2 separate regions of the Homo sapiens genome follow, and region 1 is linked to region 2. Evidence: fine-mapped QTL for protein levels in blood plasma. A gene starts in region 2. The other region holds a variant in brackets. All regions are shown on one strand. Distances are from middle to middle.

Region 1 (8,000 bases), 45 kb before region 2:
TGCAGACAGAATGGATAAGATTTAGGAACTAGAAGTACTGGAGTTGAGCCAGGGTGGTACACTGTGACTGGAAGCCAAGAGAAGCCAGCGTTGCACGGAGGGTTTCCACAGCAGGATCGAGTATTGCACAGAGTTAGGCGAGGTCATTGAGACTGACAGGTAAGAGATCATTGTAATTTCAGCTGAGTAGTGGAAATACAAGGCAAATTATAAAGAATTTAGGTGGACCGGGCATGGTGGCTCACATCTGTAATCCCAGCTATTCAGGAGGCTGAGGGAGAAGAATCGCTTGAACCCGGGAGGCAGAGGTTGTAGTGAGCCAAGATCGTGCCACTGCACTCCAGCCTGGGTGACAGAGTGAGTGAGACTCCGTCTCAAAAAAAAAAAGAATTTTTTTGATATATTTGCCAATGAAATGAAGGAAAAAATAGGGTAGTAATTTGAGGGAGTGGCATGATCAAAGCAAACAAATTTGTTAGGATTAGGGAGTTTATATATGGAAGCAGACAGAAGGAGCAAGTGGAGAGGAGGAACTGGTGTTAACAGCAAGAGAGAGCATAAGATGTGGAGAGAAAGGATCCCAGAGAGATGAATGGGGAGGAAAGAGGGGGGGAGCATCTACCCCCGGGATCCCAGAGAGATGAATGGGGAGGAAAGAGGGGGGGAGCATCTACCCCCGAACTGGAGGAAAAGGGGGTAAGAAGCACCCAAGAGGCCCTGTTCCTGGCCAGGTGCTGGCCCAATTACCGAGTTTATCTCTGAGCAACCCAGGAGGTCAGCATCATTATACTCATTTCATAGATGAGGCAATTAAGACTCAGAGAAGCTGCCCTGCCAGTAAGCATGAGATCTGGGTTTCAACCTCAGCCCTAGTCCAGAGTCCTCACTCCTTCCCTGCCACCACAATGTCTAGTTCCTGGGAATGACAGAAGGAAAGAGGAGGGTGTGGTACAGGCAGGAAGGAGCTCTGAACGGTTCCCTTATGTTTCTCCTGCAACAGGAAGCTGGCAGCAGACCACCCATTCCTGAAGGAGATGCAAGATCAAGGGGAGAACCTGTATGTGGTGATGGAGGTGGTGGAGACGGTGCAGGAGGTCACACTGGAGCGAGCCGGCAAGGCAGAGGCCTGCTTCTCCCTCCCCTTCTTCGCCCCATTGGGGCTACAGGTTTGATTCAAACACACACACACACACACACACACACTCTCACACTCACACTCACACATACACATTTACATTCAGCCCCTCCTTGGAGGCTTCATTAGCTTTGCCTGATCAGCGCCCACCGAGGATGCTGAAAAGGGCCACTCCTTCCCCCGGCTCTTAAAGATCCAAACCCCAGACATATGCCCCCTCCCTGGTCAGTGGCACCCAGTGAGGGCAGATCCCTGCGCCAGATGCCACAGGGAACTACTGGGGAAGGGGAAAGTCACATTCCTGGGTTTTCCCTCGTGGTGCTCCCATTCCAAAGAGGAGACATCTTTACTCTCGGAAAGTCATCAGGTTCATAGAGGAGACACAGAGGCTAAAGCCCAGAGAACACAGGCTTGGAAAAGCCAATGGAAATAAGGAATGGTCTCCATACCTCTATCTATTGCATCTAAATATTCAAGGGATGATTTGGGATTTGGAGCCAGGAGTAGGGGTTAGTCATGGAAGGCGTCCTGAAAGAGGTAAGCATGGGACAGATGGTGAAGAGGAAGAAGGAGCCAGGGCTTGGATGGAAGCTCTAGGGTGATGTACAGGCAGGAGATGGAGCAGGTCTGCCCAGTTCCCTTCATGCATCTGAACCAGGAACTAGAACTGACCTGACTAGACTCTACTGACCTGAACCAGGTCACTAGAGGGAAAATCAGCAGAAATGAGCACAAGGACTTTGAAGTCCTTCCTCAGAGTCCAGACCAGGGACACCACTGAAGGCTTCCAGCTTCTTATCTCCCTGAAGGCTCTCAGCCCTGACCCTGCACCTCCCCCAACTCACGCTCCCAATATCTCATACTTAAGATGTCCAGAGATTCACAAATTCTCATTGTCTAATTCTAGGGATCCATAAATCACAAGGAGGCTGTAACCATCCCCAAGGGCTGCGTCCTGGCCTTTCGAGTGAGACAGCTGATGGTCAAAGGCAAAGATGAGTGGGGTGAGCAGAGACCCGCATGTTCTCCCCACAAGATGAGAATTACCTGCACCAGTACTGAGGCACCCTGGTCCCCTCTTGCGGAAATGTCAGAGAATGAGTAGGGGGGTGTATTGTACTGTGATCCGACTGCAGCCATGGAGCCTGCTCTGGAGAGAAGGGTGAAGAGGCTCCTGGATTCTGAGCATCTTCTGGGTGCTGGGCACTGTGGTTATTGGGGGAGGGGGTACAAATATGAACATGCACTGCCTCTGCTCTCAAGAAGTCTGTGGCCAAAGGAGGAAACAGACAGAGACTGGAATGGATGATAGAAAGTAGTGTTCTCATAGTAGAGAATTTATCAAGGAAGAAAAGATTGCTTCCAGCAATGGAGGTTGAAGCTGGGAATTAAATGAAGCATTTGGGGTGCAAGGTCCTAGCCCTTAGCAGAGCCCTTTGGCTTGAGACTGAAGAAGGGAATGTGGGGCAGCTGCTAAGTGTCCTCCCACCCTCCCTCCCTTGCCCTTCACAGATATTCCACATATCTGCAATGATAACATGCAAACCTTCCCTCCTGGAGGTAAGTGAAATTGCTTACGGGCTTCCCACATCTTCCGCCCTACCCCTGACATTATCTGCCAAAATCCTCCACCCTCTCCTAGCTTATACTATAATCCCCCAAGGAGCCTCTGCTTTTGTTTCCCAAGTCCCTAAGAATACCTAGCCTCAACTTTAGAAAGACAGATAGAGGCATATAAATACTGTCCCAGAGAGATATAGAAACTGACAGACAGAGACCGGAAGGCACAGTCAGAAGCAGAAGTAAGACTTGGAGACTGAGTGTGTTCCCGAATCATGGGGGTGGATGAGCTAGCATAATCTCCCTGTGTTTTTATAATGATCACTGATGAAACTGCCTTGAAGACTGTTTTAGATGAAAAGGCAAAAATGGGTTTTGTGCTGACAGATGTGCATTTTTTCTGTCTTCAGAAAAGTCAGGAGAGGAGAAGGTCATCCGTAAGTGTTTCCTTTCATTCCACTGAAACTTTCTTGACTCCAAATTTTAAAACTCCAGTCTTTTTCTTTCCTTCTGACAGGACTGACAGGGAAATAGCAGAGCGAATCTCAGCAAATAATTGTCCCCGAAACATGGCAGAAATTCCAATAGCTTGGGAAAAAGCAGTGGAAAGGGGGGAGTCTTTGCCCAGGTGGTCTGACGCCTGAGACCTTTGTCCTCAACAGCCTTACTAGCAGCCAGGCACAGTGATTCACACCTATAATCCCAGCACTTTGGGAGGCTGAGGCAGGAGGATCCCTTGAGCTCAGGAGTTCAAGACCAGCCTGGGCAACATAGTGAGACAATGTCTCTATTTAAAAAAAAAAATTTTTTTTTGGATGGAGTTTCACTCTTGTTGCCCAGGCTGGAGTGTAGTGGCGCAATCTCAGTCCACTGCAACCTCCACCTCCCCGGTTCAAGTGATTCTCCTGCCTCAGCCTCCGGAGTAGCTGGGATTACAGGCACCCGCCACCATGCCCTGCTAATTTTTTGTATTTTTAGTAGAGATGGGGTTTCACCATGTTGGTCAGGCAGGTCTTGAACTCCTGACCTCAGGTGATCCACCCACCTCAGCCTCCCAAAGTATTGGGATTACAGGCGTGAGCCACGGCGCCTGGC[C/CT]TTTTTTTTTTTTCTTGAGACAGAGTCTCATTCTGTTGCCCAGACTGGAGTGCAAAGGTGAGATCTCCACTCACTGCAAACTCTGCCTCCCAGGTTCAAGCAATTCTTGTGCCTCAGCCTCCTGAGTAGCTAGGATAACAGGCGCGGGCCACCACACTCGGCGAATTTTTAGTATAGATGGGGTTTCACCATGTTGGCCAGGCTGGTCTCAAACTCCTGACCTCAGGTGATCCTCCCACCTTGGCCTCCCAAAGTGCTGGGATCACAGGTGTGAGCCACTGAGCCTGGCCTAGAAAAAAAAAAAAAAAATTAAGAGTCTTAGTAGCTATAACCTGCTACACACACATCTGCAACTCGGCCGCCCAGCAACTGGGGCCAGAGCCACTGAGTCACAGTAATGCCAGGAACAAGGTAGCTGGGCTCTCCCAGGAGACAGGCAGGATGTATTTCCTCATCTTCCTTAGTGTCTCAACCCCTGGGTATGGCTGCCATTCTGAAGGATTGCATTCTTATCTTTTTTTTTTCCTTTTTTTCTCAGTTATCCAGGCATCTGATGTTGGTAAGGAACTTTGTGAGTTTCTCCCAAGACTTTGGCATGGAGGTAGCATTAGGGGCAGAGAGAGGAGAAGGCGAAGTCATTCTTTGTCAGCTAACTCATGGGAAGGGAAAACAGACTTTCTTTCTCCACTTTTTGCTGGAGTCTCAAAGAAAAGTCAAGTGTGTACTGATATGGGATAAGGCCTGGGATCTCAGGAAGATTAACTGTTGGGTTAGATGATACATGCATCCTGGCCCACCTTCTCGCCCCAACCCTCAGGTTAGGGTTGGTGGATAGTTCTGTCACCGCATTCCTTGGTAAAGAAAAATGGGGCCAGGCTCAAACTGGGGGGTAGAGCATGGGTACCTAAAGGGGGCTGAGTGTAGGAGCCCTGCAGGGGGAATGCTGACTGGAGAGGAAGGTGCCCGATGGAGGGCTGTGTGTCCCATTATTGTCCCCATAGGGGACGTACACGAAGGCTTCAGGACACTAAAAGAAGAAGTTCAGAGAGAGACCCAACAAGTGGAGAAGCTGAGCCGAGTAGGGCAAAGCTCCCTGCTCAGCTCCCTCAGCAAACTTCTAGGGAAGAAAAAGGAGCTACAAGACCTTGAGCTCGCAGTGAGGACCTAGTGGAAGTGGGGAAGGGTGGGAGAAGGCATGTTTTGGTGAAGATTTGGTGGGGGCGGGTATTGCAGCAGGTAGGGAGATCTGACGGGGGCAGGAGGTGGGTGGCCAGGGGAGTCCACCTTAGATACCTTCCCCAAGGCTGGCCACGTGCCCCAAGGCTGCCAGGCCACTGCTCCTCCCTTTGTCCCCTGGAAAAGGGCAAACAGTGGGTTCCCCCAAGGCACATGCTCCCTCTGATGGCCAGAAGGGACTTCTGCTGGAGGGGCTGGAACCTTCTCTTTCCAGAGTCCAAAACTCAGGAAACAAGGAACCCAGGAGTCCAGTACTCTTCAGGACATGAGGCCTCGAAAAAGAAATCAGGAAATGGAGAGAGTTTCCGCATGTCAAGGGGTTATTATGTGCTGGGCCCTGGGTTGGGCCCTTTCCTATGTTATCTTCAATAGTCGCCCACCTTCCCCCACAGCTTGAAGGGGCTCTAGACAAGGGACATGAAGTGACCCTGGAGGCACTCCCAAAAGATGTCCTGCTATCAAAGGAGGCCGTGGGCGCCATCCTCTATTTCGTTGGAGCCCTAACAGGTAAGTGGGGAATAAGGTCTTCATTTATAGACCTTTTCAGTAATAGGAATGAATCACTTGAATCAATTCCCAAATGGATGAATAAATGAATGAATGACAAATTATACCACAGTTAAGTAGTTTATATCTACATTTTTATAAATTGGTTTCATGGCTGGCTGCAGTGGCTCATGCCTGTAATCCCAGCACTTTGGGAGGCCAAGGTGGATGGATCACCCGTGATCAAGAGTTCGAGATCAGCCTGGCCAACATGGTGAAACCCCGCCTCTTCCAAAAATAGAAAAATTAGCCGGGCGTGGTGGCAGGTGCCTGTAATCCCAGCTACTCTGAAGGCTAAGGCAGGAGAATCGCTTGAACCCAGGAGGGGGAGGGTGCAGTGAGCCGAGATCACTCCATTGCACTCCAGCCTGGGCAACAGAGCGAGACTCCATCAAAAAAAAAAAAAATTGGTTTCATTCCTAAGGATTTGCTTGGTCACATTGGGTAGTCTGAGAAGACAGCCTAGTCTTGCTAATAGAGGTTGAATAACCCTAGTTTTATCAGCAACATATTTAAAATTTCTGCATATAGCTAAGCTCATCACTTCTATCCTGATACCTGTTAGCTTTAACTTCAGGGAGTAACATTTTCTTATCTTGCCCCTAAGAGCTCTTCTTCCCTCCACATTTTCTAGTTTTCCACTTAGAAAAACTCTGTGGTCCTTCAGGTGTAAGCCAAAACGTTTGTTCCCTTAGGAAGCCTGCCCTCCGACTCCAAGACCAAAGTGGACCCCTCAGCTATGGCTCCCTTAACACCTGCGTTGTAATTACATCCAATGAATGAAGGCTGAAATTCTGGAAGTGCGCTATTTGGAGGCTGTAGTCCCCTCTGCACCAGCAACACACATCTTTCTCTGCTTTTTTTCTCCAGAGCTAAGTGAAGCCCAACAGAAGCTGCTGGTGAAATCCATGGAGAAAAAGATCCTACCCGTGCAGCTAAAGCTGGTGAGGGAAAAACAGCAGATGCTGGGGAGAGTCTGGGAGTAGCTGCAGCCAGTGGAGATGCAGATTTCGCCTAAGGATGGAGCCATTCTGGAGGATCCCTGTCTTATCCCAGGGGCTTATGCCCACTCCTCCTTTCTCTCTCTATTTCTCATTTTTTGTTATTTCACAAGAGGTAGAAGACTGAATTTCTGGGCAATAATCTGGGTTTATTAGCCTGATCTTGGGAGAAGAGACAGAAACTGTGGCTTTGCTTATTCCTAGCCAAATATTGTAAGCAAATTTTTTTTTTTTTTTTTTTGAGATAGAGTTTCACTCTTTTTGCCCAGGCTGGAGTGCAATGGTGCGATCTTGGCTCACCACAACCTCCGCCTCCCGGGTTCAAGCGATTCTCCTGCCTCAGCCTCCCGAGTAGCTGGGATTACAGGCGCCCACCACCACACCCTGCTAATTTTGTATTTTTAGTAGAGACAGGGTTTCACCATGTTGGCCAGGCTGGTCTCAAACTCCTGACCTCAGGTGATCTGCCCACCTCAGCCTCCCAAAGTGCTGGGATTACAGGTGTGAGCCACCTCGCCTGGCCTGTGAGCAAATTTTTTACTGTGTCTGAGTCTGTCTCAATTTATTCCTCTGTAAAATGGGGCTAAAAATCAATGTGCTGCCCACTGTATAGGGCTGTTCAAAGACCCAGATGGGGTTGTAATGTAAGGTAAAGTAAGGAATTCTAATAAGGGGAATGTAACCTTCTTGTGATTTTTGTGAGTTAGGAGAGGAGAGAGGTTTCCAGTTCTTTCTTTTCATGCTGTTTTGATTCCCTCCAGGTGGAGAGCACGATGGAACAGAACTTCCTGCTGGATAAAGAGGGTGTTTTCCCCCTGCAACCTGAGCTGCTCTCCTCCCTTGGGGACGAGGAGCTGACCCTCACGGAGGCTCTAGTCGGGCTGAGTGGCCTGGAAGTGCAGAGATCGGGCCCCCAATATATGTGGGACCCAGACACCCTCCCTCGCCTCTGTGCTCTTTATGCAGGCCTCTCTCTCCTTCAGCAGCTTACCAAGGCCTCCTAATTTGCCTTTTACGTCTGCTTCATGACTCCCTAATGCCTTCCCAACCTCGTGGTGCTGTGTCCTTACCACCTAAGGGCATTTCAGAGCCATCAGCTGAAGACATCTGAAATCTCAGCTGGTCACCCATGATAACCAACTTCCACCTGCCCAACCATATATCACCCCCTACCCCTCCAGCTCCGCAACCCACTAAGCCCATCTGCTGATGCTTAAATTTTCTTTACTTTTCTTTTCTTTTTTTTTTTTTTTTTGAGATGGAGGCTCACTCTGTCACCCAGGCTGGAGTGCAGTGGCTTGATCTTGGCTCACTGCAACCTCCGCCTCCCAGGTTCAAGCAATTCTCCTGCCTCAGCCTCTCGAGCAGCTGGAATTACAGGCACGTGCCACGACACCCAGCTAATTTTTGTATTTTTAGTAGAGACG
Region 2 (8,672 bases):
TAACGCTGCATGGTTCTAAGATGAGAAGATGGGGCAGTTTCCCCTCTCTCACCCCAGCCCGTGTCCACTTCAAGGTGAATGACCAGGGAAGTCACGTGTCCCAATCCCGCAGTTCCAAAGCCCTTGGGGACCCTACTGTCAGGGTCGTGCACGAGGAGGTGAAGGTCAGGTGAGCCAATCGCCTCGAAGGGTCTTGCCTCATTCGGGACAGACATCCGGTTTCCTCTGGCTCTACCGGGATTCTAGGGGCTTTAGCCGAATGAGTCATGGGGGGCGGGGGGGTTTCTGGGGGAGTTCCCAGCTAATCAACTTGGGACAGGACAGCCTGGAACTTTCGATGGTGCCTATCCAAGTGTGGGGTGGGCACAGCAGCCAAGACCCAATGTCCTTATCTCAGGTAGGGGCTCAGGAGGTCTCCCAGACAGGCAGCCTCCGGAGAGTTTGGGGGTAGGAATGGGAGCAACCAGCTTCTTTTTTTCTCTCTTAGAATTTGGGGGCTTGGGGGACAGGCTTGAGAATCCCAAAGGAGAGGGGCAAAGGACACTGCCCCCGCAAGTCTGCCAGAGCAGAGAGGGAGACCCCGACTCAGCTGCCACTTCCCCACAGGCTGCTGCCGCTTCCAGGCGTCTATCAGCGGCTCAGCCTTTGTTCAGCTGTTCTGTTCAAACACTCTGGGGCCATTCAGGCCTGGGTGGGGCAGCGGGAGGAAGGGAGTTTGAGGGGGGCAAGGCGACGTCAAAGGAGGATCAGAGATTCCACAATTTCACAAAACTTTCGCAAACAGCTTTTTGTTCCAACCCCCCTGCATTGTCTTGGACACCAAATTTGCATAAATCCTGGGAAGTTATTACTAAGCCTTAGTCGTGGCCCCAGGTAATTTCCTCCCAGGCCTCCATGGGGTTATGTATAAAGGCCCCCCTAGAGCTGGGCCCCAAAACAGCCCGGAGCCTGCAGCCCAGCCCCACCCAGACCCATGGCTGGACCTGCCACCCAGAGCCCCATGAAGCTGATGGGTGAGTGTCTTGGCCCAGGATGGGAGAGCCGCCTGCCCTGGCATGGGAGGGAGGCTGGTGTGACAGAGGGGCTGGGGATCCCCGTTCTGGGAATGGGGATTAAAGGCACCCAGTGTCCCCGAGAGGGCCTCAGGTGGTAGGGAACAGCATGTCTCCTGAGCCCGCTCTGTCCCCAGCCCTGCAGCTGCTGCTGTGGCACAGTGCACTCTGGACAGTGCAGGAAGCCACCCCCCTGGGCCCTGCCAGCTCCCTGCCCCAGAGCTTCCTGCTCAAGTGCTTAGAGCAAGTGAGGAAGATCCAGGGCGATGGCGCAGCGCTCCAGGAGAAGCTGGTGAGTGAGGTGGGTGAGAGGGCTGTGGAGGGAAGCCCGGTGGGGAGAGCTAAGGGGGATGGAACTGCAGGGCCAACATCCTCTGGAAGGGACGTGGGAGAATATTAGGAGCAGTGGAGCTGGGGAAGGCTGGGAAGGGACTTGGGGAGGAGGACCTTGGTGGGGACAGTGCTCGGGAGGGCTGGCTGGGATGGGAGTGGAGGCATTACATTCAGGAGAAAGGGCAAGGGCCCCTGTGAGATCAGAGAGTGGGGGTGCAGGGCAGAGAGGAACTGAACAGCCTGGCAGGACATGGAGGGAGGGGAAAGACCAGAGAGTCGGGGAGGACCCGGGAAGGAGCGGCGACCCGGCCATGGCGAGTCTCACTCAGCATCCTTCCATCCCCAGTGTGCCACCTACAAGCTGTGCCACCCCGAGGAGCTGGTGCTGCTCGGACACTCTCTGGGCATCCCCTGGGCTCCCCTGAGCAGCTGCCCCAGCCAGGCCCTGCAGCTGGTGAGTGTCAGGAAAGGATAAGGCTAATGAGGAGGGGGAAGGAGAGGAGGAACACCCATGGGCTCCCCCATGTCTCCAGGTTCCAAGCTGGGGGCCTGACGTATCTCAGGCAGCACCCCCTAACTCTTCCGCTCTGTCTCACAGGCAGGCTGCTTGAGCCAACTCCATAGCGGCCTTTTCCTCTACCAGGGGCTCCTGCAGGCCCTGGAAGGGATCTCCCCCGAGTTGGGTCCCACCTTGGACACACTGCAGCTGGACGTCGCCGACTTTGCCACCACCATCTGGCAGCAGGTGAGCCTTGTTGGGCAGGGTGGCCAAGGTCGTGCTGGCATTCTGGGCACCACAGCCAGGCCTGTGTATGGGCCCTGTCCATGCTGTCACCCCCAGCATTTCCTCATTTGTAATAACGCCCACTCAGAAGGGCCCAACCACTGATCACAGCTTTCCCCCACAGATGGAAGAACTGGGAATGGCCCCTGCCCTGCAGCCCACCCAGGGTGCCATGCCGGCCTTCGCCTCTGCTTTCCAGCGCCGGGCAGGAGGGGTCCTGGTTGCCTCCCATCTGCAGAGCTTCCTGGAGGTGTCGTACCGCGTTCTACGCCACCTTGCCCAGCCCTGAGCCAAGCCCTCCCCATCCCATGTATTTATCTCTATTTAATATTTATGTCTATTTAAGCCTCATATTTAAAGACAGGGAAGAGCAGAACGGAGCCCCAGGCCTCTGTGTCCTTCCCTGCATTTCTGAGTTTCATTCTCCTGCCTGTAGCAGTGAGAAAAAGCTCCTGTCCTCCCATCCCCTGGACTGGGAGGTAGATAGGTAAATACCAAGTATTTATTACTATGACTGCTCCCCAGCCCTGGCTCTGCAATGGGCACTGGGATGAGCCGCTGTGAGCCCCTGGTCCTGAGGGTCCCCACCTGGGACCCTTGAGAGTATCAGGTCTCCCACGTGGGAGACAAGAAATCCCTGTTTAATATTTAAACAGCAGTGTTCCCCATCTGGGTCCTTGCACCCCTCACTCTGGCCTCAGCCGACTGCACAGCGGCCCCTGCATCCCCTTGGCTGTGAGGCCCCTGGACAAGCAGAGGTGGCCAGAGCTGGGAGGCATGGCCCTGGGGTCCCACGAATTTGCTGGGGAATCTCGTTTTTCTTCTTAAGACTTTTGGGACATGGTTTGACTCCCGAACATCACCGACGCGTCTCCTGTTTTTCTGGGTGGCCTCGGGACACCTGCCCTGCCCCCACGAGGGTCAGGACTGTGACTCTTTTTAGGGCCAGGCAGGTGCCTGGACATTTGCCTTGCTGGACGGGGACTGGGGATGTGGGAGGGAGCAGACAGGAGGAATCATGTCAGGCCTGTGTGTGAAAGGAAGCTCCACTGTCACCCTCCACCTCTTCACCCCCCACTCACCAGTGTCCCCTCCACTGTCACATTGTAACTGAACTTCAGGATAATAAAGTGTTTGCCTCCAGTCACGTCCTTCCTCCTTCTTGAGTCCAGCTGGTGCCTGGCCAGGGGCTGGGGAGGTGGCTGAAGGGTGGGAGAGGCCAGAGGGAGGTCGGGGAGGAGGTCTGGGGAGGAGGTCCAGGGAGGAGGAGGAAAGTTCTCAAGTTCGTCTGACATTCATTCCGTTAGCACATATTTATCTGAGCACCTACTCTGTGCAGACGCTGGGCTAAGTGCTGGGGACACAGCAGGGAACAAGGCAGACATGGAATCTGCACTCGAGCAGCCAAAGCCTGGCAGGGAAGACAGAGGCACAGGGACCATGGGAACCCGGAAAGGAGAGGGCATGGGGTCTGGGTGGGCTTAACAGGCCAGACACAGCCAGACAAGATGAAGCCAGGGAGTGCTGAGCATCTGCACCAGGCTTGTCATTTACCATCTTCCATAAACTTGAGCCCATCCATCAAGTTGCCCACAAAGTGGAAGCCAAGTTCAAGGTGACCACTGGGGTCAGAGCTTCTCTCCTCAGACTCGGTCTCTGCACTCGCCCCAGCTGGTCACTTCCTGCTTGTGGCAGCCTTGGGCTGAAGAGCGCTAAGCTCACAGCCCAGGAGGGTGGGGAGCTGTGGCAAGCAGGGGGGGCAGCGACCGCACCACAGGTGTGAGGCCTGCCTGCAGCCAAAGACTCCTGTGTGGCTTTGGGGTACCCCCACCAGTCCCCAGTCCACTATCTGCCCAAACCTTCTCCTCCTCAGCTCCTCAGTCCCTCCCACCTCCCCTGCCCGTGGCTCCTCGGAAAGCAGGGTCAGAAGTTCCCACTGCCAGCTCGGAGTCATCCATCTAGGGGCTCAGAGATGTGTGAGGCAGGCAAGGAAGGGTTAAAGAAAGGTCCGGCCCCTCATCCCCCCGCCTCCCATCCCCCAGTCCTTTTTTGGAGGCAACAGATCAAATCCCAGGCTAGTCAGAGTGTGGGTGGTGTTGGACCAGGTTCGGGAGACAGCAGAGCAGGCCACCCTGCCCCAGCACTGTGGGGCCCTGAGCCAAAGCCTCTCCCCTTTCAGGGTACAGCTGGCTTTGGGGGAGGGGGCAGCAGGCCAGCCAACTTGGCTCCAAGGAAGGGAAGCTGCTTTCCCCTGGCCCTTCCCCAGCTGAGCAAGCCCACATAGGACCCTGAGCCCTGCCGCCTCTGCTCCTCTTCCTCCTCCTCCTCACCACAGGAGTGAGCCGTTCCCTGGCCACAGCACAGGAGTCCAGGGAGAGGACACTATGCCCTGCCCCGGGTGGCACCAATACCAACAGCACACACAGTCACAAAGGGAGCCACGAGGAGCTTTATTTATACATGAACGAAGGTAGATTTCCCTCACATATTACAAAATACACACAAACACACACACACACACACACACACACACATACACACTTTGCATCTAGAAAGTTCCTCAGAGGTAAGACTACTCCTGGGCTGGGGCGGGCGCACACAGGGGTGACCACTGGGCTTGTGGTCCAGGCTGCTCACTCTCCTCAGGTGCCAGCAGATGGAGAGGAAATTTTGAAAGAAGAAACCGGGAGACATCCTGGAGGTCAGGAGTCAGGAGCGGGGAACTGGAAGCCGCTAGAGGCTCTTGCACCATGTGGAGCGGATGTGAGGCACGATGCCTCATCTTTCCTCACTGCTTCCCTTGGAGGCGCCTGGGGCTGCGCCAGTCCCCAGCCCCCACTGCGGCCATGCCAAGCCCCTCAGAGTGCAGCAATGGCTTTAGCAGCCACCTGGCGGCCCAGGGGCAGGCTGAGGTCCGTGATGGCCAGAACCACCTTGGGGCTGGACATGGCTGACACCTTCACCAGTTCCGACACCTGCCACGGACAGACAGATGCTGCTTGCGGGACGGCTGGTGGTGGGTGTGCTGTCCCAGGGGGAAGGAGGCCCCTCCCTGCTCTAAGGGCTGCCCCGAGGCCCCAGCACCAGCAGGAGAGCCGGGAAGGTGGTACTCACGGTGGTGAAGGGCATGAACTGCAGGACGCTGCCACGGCCACCCTGCTCCAGGCAGTCCACACACTCCTCCATGAACCACTGCACGAACTGGGTGTGGGGGCCAGCGGTGCGAGACCCCAGGATGGAGGAGATGAGCAGGAACAGGTTGGCTGTAGAGAGTGGGGGGAGAGTGACAGGAGGGAGTTCCATGAGAGTGGGTGAGGTCACACTCTGGGAGAAGGTGGGACTGAAAAGGGAAAAGAAACACATGCTGAGCATGTCCCCAAAATGGGGTGTCAGAGAGAGAAAATATAAAAGGCAATTGGGGAGGGGAGGAGGGGGAACTAGACAGGAGCCTGGGGGCCAGGACAGCCAACAATGAGGGGCATGGAGAGGGAAGGGAGGGGCACCGCAAGGCCCCTTCCAGCTGACAAGGTCTCCCAGCCTCCATGAGAAGAGAGACTCGTCCAGCTTAGCCCCAGGTTCGGCAGCAGGGGTGGGGAACTCACCCAGGACTCGGTTCAGAGGGTCCCGCATGTTGACCGTGTGGAGCTGAGAGGCTGAGAGGGAGCTGCTCATGGATCGGTCTGCTGTGGGACGGAGCAGATGGAGCGCTGGGAAACAGCCTGCCGAGTGCAAAAGTGGTGCTCCCCGGGGATGCCCCAACCCGACCTTCACCCATCGGAGGTAACTGGTACATGGAGAGCCCAGAGAAGACCCTGAGATCAAGAGCACAAAGGGAGGCCAGGTACAGTGGCTCACACCTGTAATCCCAGCATTTTGGGAGGCCGAGGCAGGAGGATCGCTTGAGTCCAGGAGTTTGAGACCAGCCTTGGCAACTAGCGAGACCTCATCTCTACAAAAAATACAAAAATTAGCTGGGTGTGGTGCCAACGCCTGTAGTCCCAGCTCCTCGGGAGGCTGAGGCAGACTGCTTGAGCCTAGGAGAACAAGGCTGCAGTGAGCCGAGATGGTGCCACTGCACTCCAGCCTGAGCAACAGAGCAAAACCGTGTCTCAGAAAAACAGGCTGGGCGTGGTGGCTCACGCCTGTAATCCCAGCACTTTGGGAGGCCAAGGCGGGTGGATCATCTGAGTTCAGGAGTTCGAGACCAGCCTGACCAATATGGTGAAACCCCGTCTCTACTAAAAATACAAAAATTAGCCAGGCGTTGTGGCAGGCGCCTGTAGTCCCAGAGACTCAGGAGGCTGAGACAGGAAAATTGCTTAAACCCAGGAGGCGGAGGTTGCAGTAAGCTGAGATCGTGCGACTGCACTCCAGCCTGGGCAACAGAGGGAGACTCCAACTCAAACAAACAAACAAACAAACAAACAAAAAACAAAACAAAAAAAGGGCACAGAGGGACCTCAGATACAGAGATCCCAATGGAATGAGAGAGAAAAACTAACATGTGGTGAGCACACAGGGCCAGGGGCCGATCTTGGTACTTCCTAAGCTGCTTACTCCTCACAACACCCCATTTACAGATGAGGAGACCCAGACGGGGGCTGGCTCAGTCGCTAGCTAAAGGTCACAGCACTTGTAGCTGGCAAACCTAGCATCTTTCTTCTGATCAAGTGTATAGTTGGTCCCCTAGTTCCTAAAAGGCTTCAGAGAAAAGTTCAGGCTCAGGAGAAATCTCTGGAAACAGGAAAAATGCCACAGAAGGAACCCTTGGCAGTAAGCCTGGCAGGGAGGAGGGGACAGTGAAAAGGATGACCTCCAGGGAAGTGGTTGGTGGGGGGTGTGCTCTTTAGGCAGGAAGGTGGGGAGTAGCCCCATGCCCCAGCCCGGGCCTCTCCGGGCATGTTTTGGGGGAAGGAAGGAAGGAAGGTCAGAGCTGGTGAGTCAATGGCACAGGCTGTGCCTGAGGCAGTGAACTCACTCACTTGGGTAGCTTGTCATCCCCTCAACCCTGGGGTAAGGGAGGGGCAGGAGGGCTGTGGGGGAACAACTGTGGGCTGGGCTGGACCTGGGCAGAGGAGCTTCAACCCTCAGGGAGTGAGAACAGCAACCTCTTCTCCAGGGGCAGGACACAGAGCACCCCCTTGGGGGCTAGAACAGCAGGTCCCTGCCACACCCTCTCTGACCAGCTGCAAAGATGCCTGCAGCTGGGGCAGCGGCAGAGTGGCAGCATCGGGGAGTGAATTCCCAGGAAAAGGAGCGGCGCGCGGCCAGCCCACACACTCACTGGGGCTCGAAAGGATGTTGGCATCGTCCTCATTAGAGCTCAGCAGTCGCATCAACTTCGAAGGCTGCACATCGTCCAGGGGGAAGAGGCTGATATAATCCTAGAGGGAGTGAAAGTCACTGTTATACACCCCTAAACCCCCCAGTTTCCAGCTGTCAGGGAAAAGAGCTTGAGCTCCGATTTGAGCGAGGTCAGCATGGCTAGCAGGGCCTCAGCCCCTCTCTGCTCAACCCCTCCCACAATCTGACAGGCCCCTTGTGCCCATGGGCAAGCTGGGGCCACACAAATCACCCATGCAGATTCCTGACCAATCATGCCCAGGCACAGCTGCCCCAAGGGCAGGGGCCACAACTGCTTCCCTTTGCCTGGGGAATCCTTAGGAAATGCTGTAACAAACCGGTGAACAAGTGAAGCCGGCGAGGGCAGCTGGGGGGCCTACCTCAATGTCTTCGCGGTGTCTCTTCTTCTGGCGGGTGGACGCCTGTCCCTTGTGGGAGGAGTAGGAACTGAGGGCACACCACACGGCCAGCCTGGCAAAGGGTTCCAGAAAAAGGGGGACAGTGAGAGGTGCCCCAGGAGCTTTCTGTGTCTGACTGGGCTCCCCAAAGCCCAGTCTCCCAGGGTGGCACCAGGCGAGGGGTGCTTGACCCTGGGTGGCCGGAGCAGGGCAAGCTCTGAAGAGAATCTTACTTGGCAAGAGCAGTGCCCGGGGGGTCCATGAGGCTGTGCCACTTGGAGGAGTCAGTGAGCAGGCCAGGTAGGATGTGGCCCAGCAGGACCAGGGTCACTTGCTGCATGTCCAGGCAGAAGATGGAGTAGAGCAGCTCCACTGCCCGCAGCGTGTGCTCCTTCCGCGTCTCCTTCAGCAGCTCCTAGTGCGCAGGAAAGGGGGCAGTTCAGGAGCCAGGGGCCCGGGATCTGGGGCTCCTACACCCTGCCACCCCAGCATGGCTGTCCAGTAAGGCCCGCAGAGGGGGCCCCAGATGTTGCTCCGCCCCTCAGGCTGAATCCCAGTCTCTGGCCAGAGCTCCCCAAGGAGGCAACTCTGAGGCGAGGCATTCCGGGGAGGCCACCTGGCTCACGGCAGCCTCTCAGGGAAGCCTGGCAGACCAGGCCAGGTGTGGGGAGCCAGGGGACAGGACCCATGTCGGCCCACAGCCACTCCAGCCCAAGTACCTTAATCAGGTTGTTGCAGAACCAGTAGACGCCGCCCATGTGC

Which allele goes with the higher level. Alleles are on the strand shown, and positions count from the first base shown. The strength of an association depends on the size of the effect and on how common the allele is.
As copies of C replace CT in region 1, the plasma level of the protein whose gene starts at base 939 in region 2 goes down (weak association).

Evidence for each region. A credible set is the group of variants that fine-mapping cannot tell apart. PIP is the chance, under the fine-mapping model, that this variant and not a neighbour inherited with it causes the effect. The UK Biobank Pharma Proteomics Project read protein levels with antibody pairs (Olink). The fine-mapping took linkage between variants from a reference panel, not from the people measured, so its PIPs are less certain.
Region 1: its variant is the best candidate, but not a certain one, in a credible set for the plasma level of the CSF3 protein (UK Biobank, PIP 0.51).

What each region holds. Positions count from the first base shown.
Region 1 is chr17:39,969,482-39,977,481 of GRCh38, forward strand. It overlaps GSDMA (gasdermin A), which reads left to right. Exons shown (of 12, transcript NM_178171.5): 4 at 1,001-1,166; 5 at 2,043-2,139; 6 at 2,648-2,695; 7 at 3,106-3,132; 8 at 4,329-4,349; 9 at 4,792-4,946; 10 at 5,419-5,533; 11 at 6,443-6,516; 12 at 7,335-8,000. The coding sequence ends at 7,577. Among named protein-coding and RNA genes, the nearest start is that of PSMD3, 7.3 kb to the right of the region's middle. The variant C/CT (reference allele first, on the strand shown) is at 3,791.
Region 2 is chr17:40,014,502-40,023,173 of GRCh38, forward strand. CSF3 (colony stimulating factor 3) reads left to right here and starts at 939. Exons shown (of 5, transcript NM_172219.3): 1 at 939-1,013; 2 at 1,190-1,344; 3 at 1,732-1,839; 4 at 1,984-2,130; 5 at 2,294-3,312. The coding sequence starts at 974. The coding sequence ends at 2,458. MED24 (mediator complex subunit 24) reads right to left here. Exons shown (of 26, transcript NM_014815.4): 20 at 8,630-8,672; 21 at 8,144-8,325; 22 at 7,893-7,983; 23 at 7,454-7,553; 24 at 5,772-5,852; 25 at 5,284-5,432; 26 at 4,603-5,144. The coding sequence ends at 5,028. PSMD3-AS1 (PSMD3 antisense RNA 1) reads right to left here and starts at 140. Exons shown (of 3, transcript NR_198981.1): 1 at 53-140. RefSeq lists an enhancer at 849-1,348.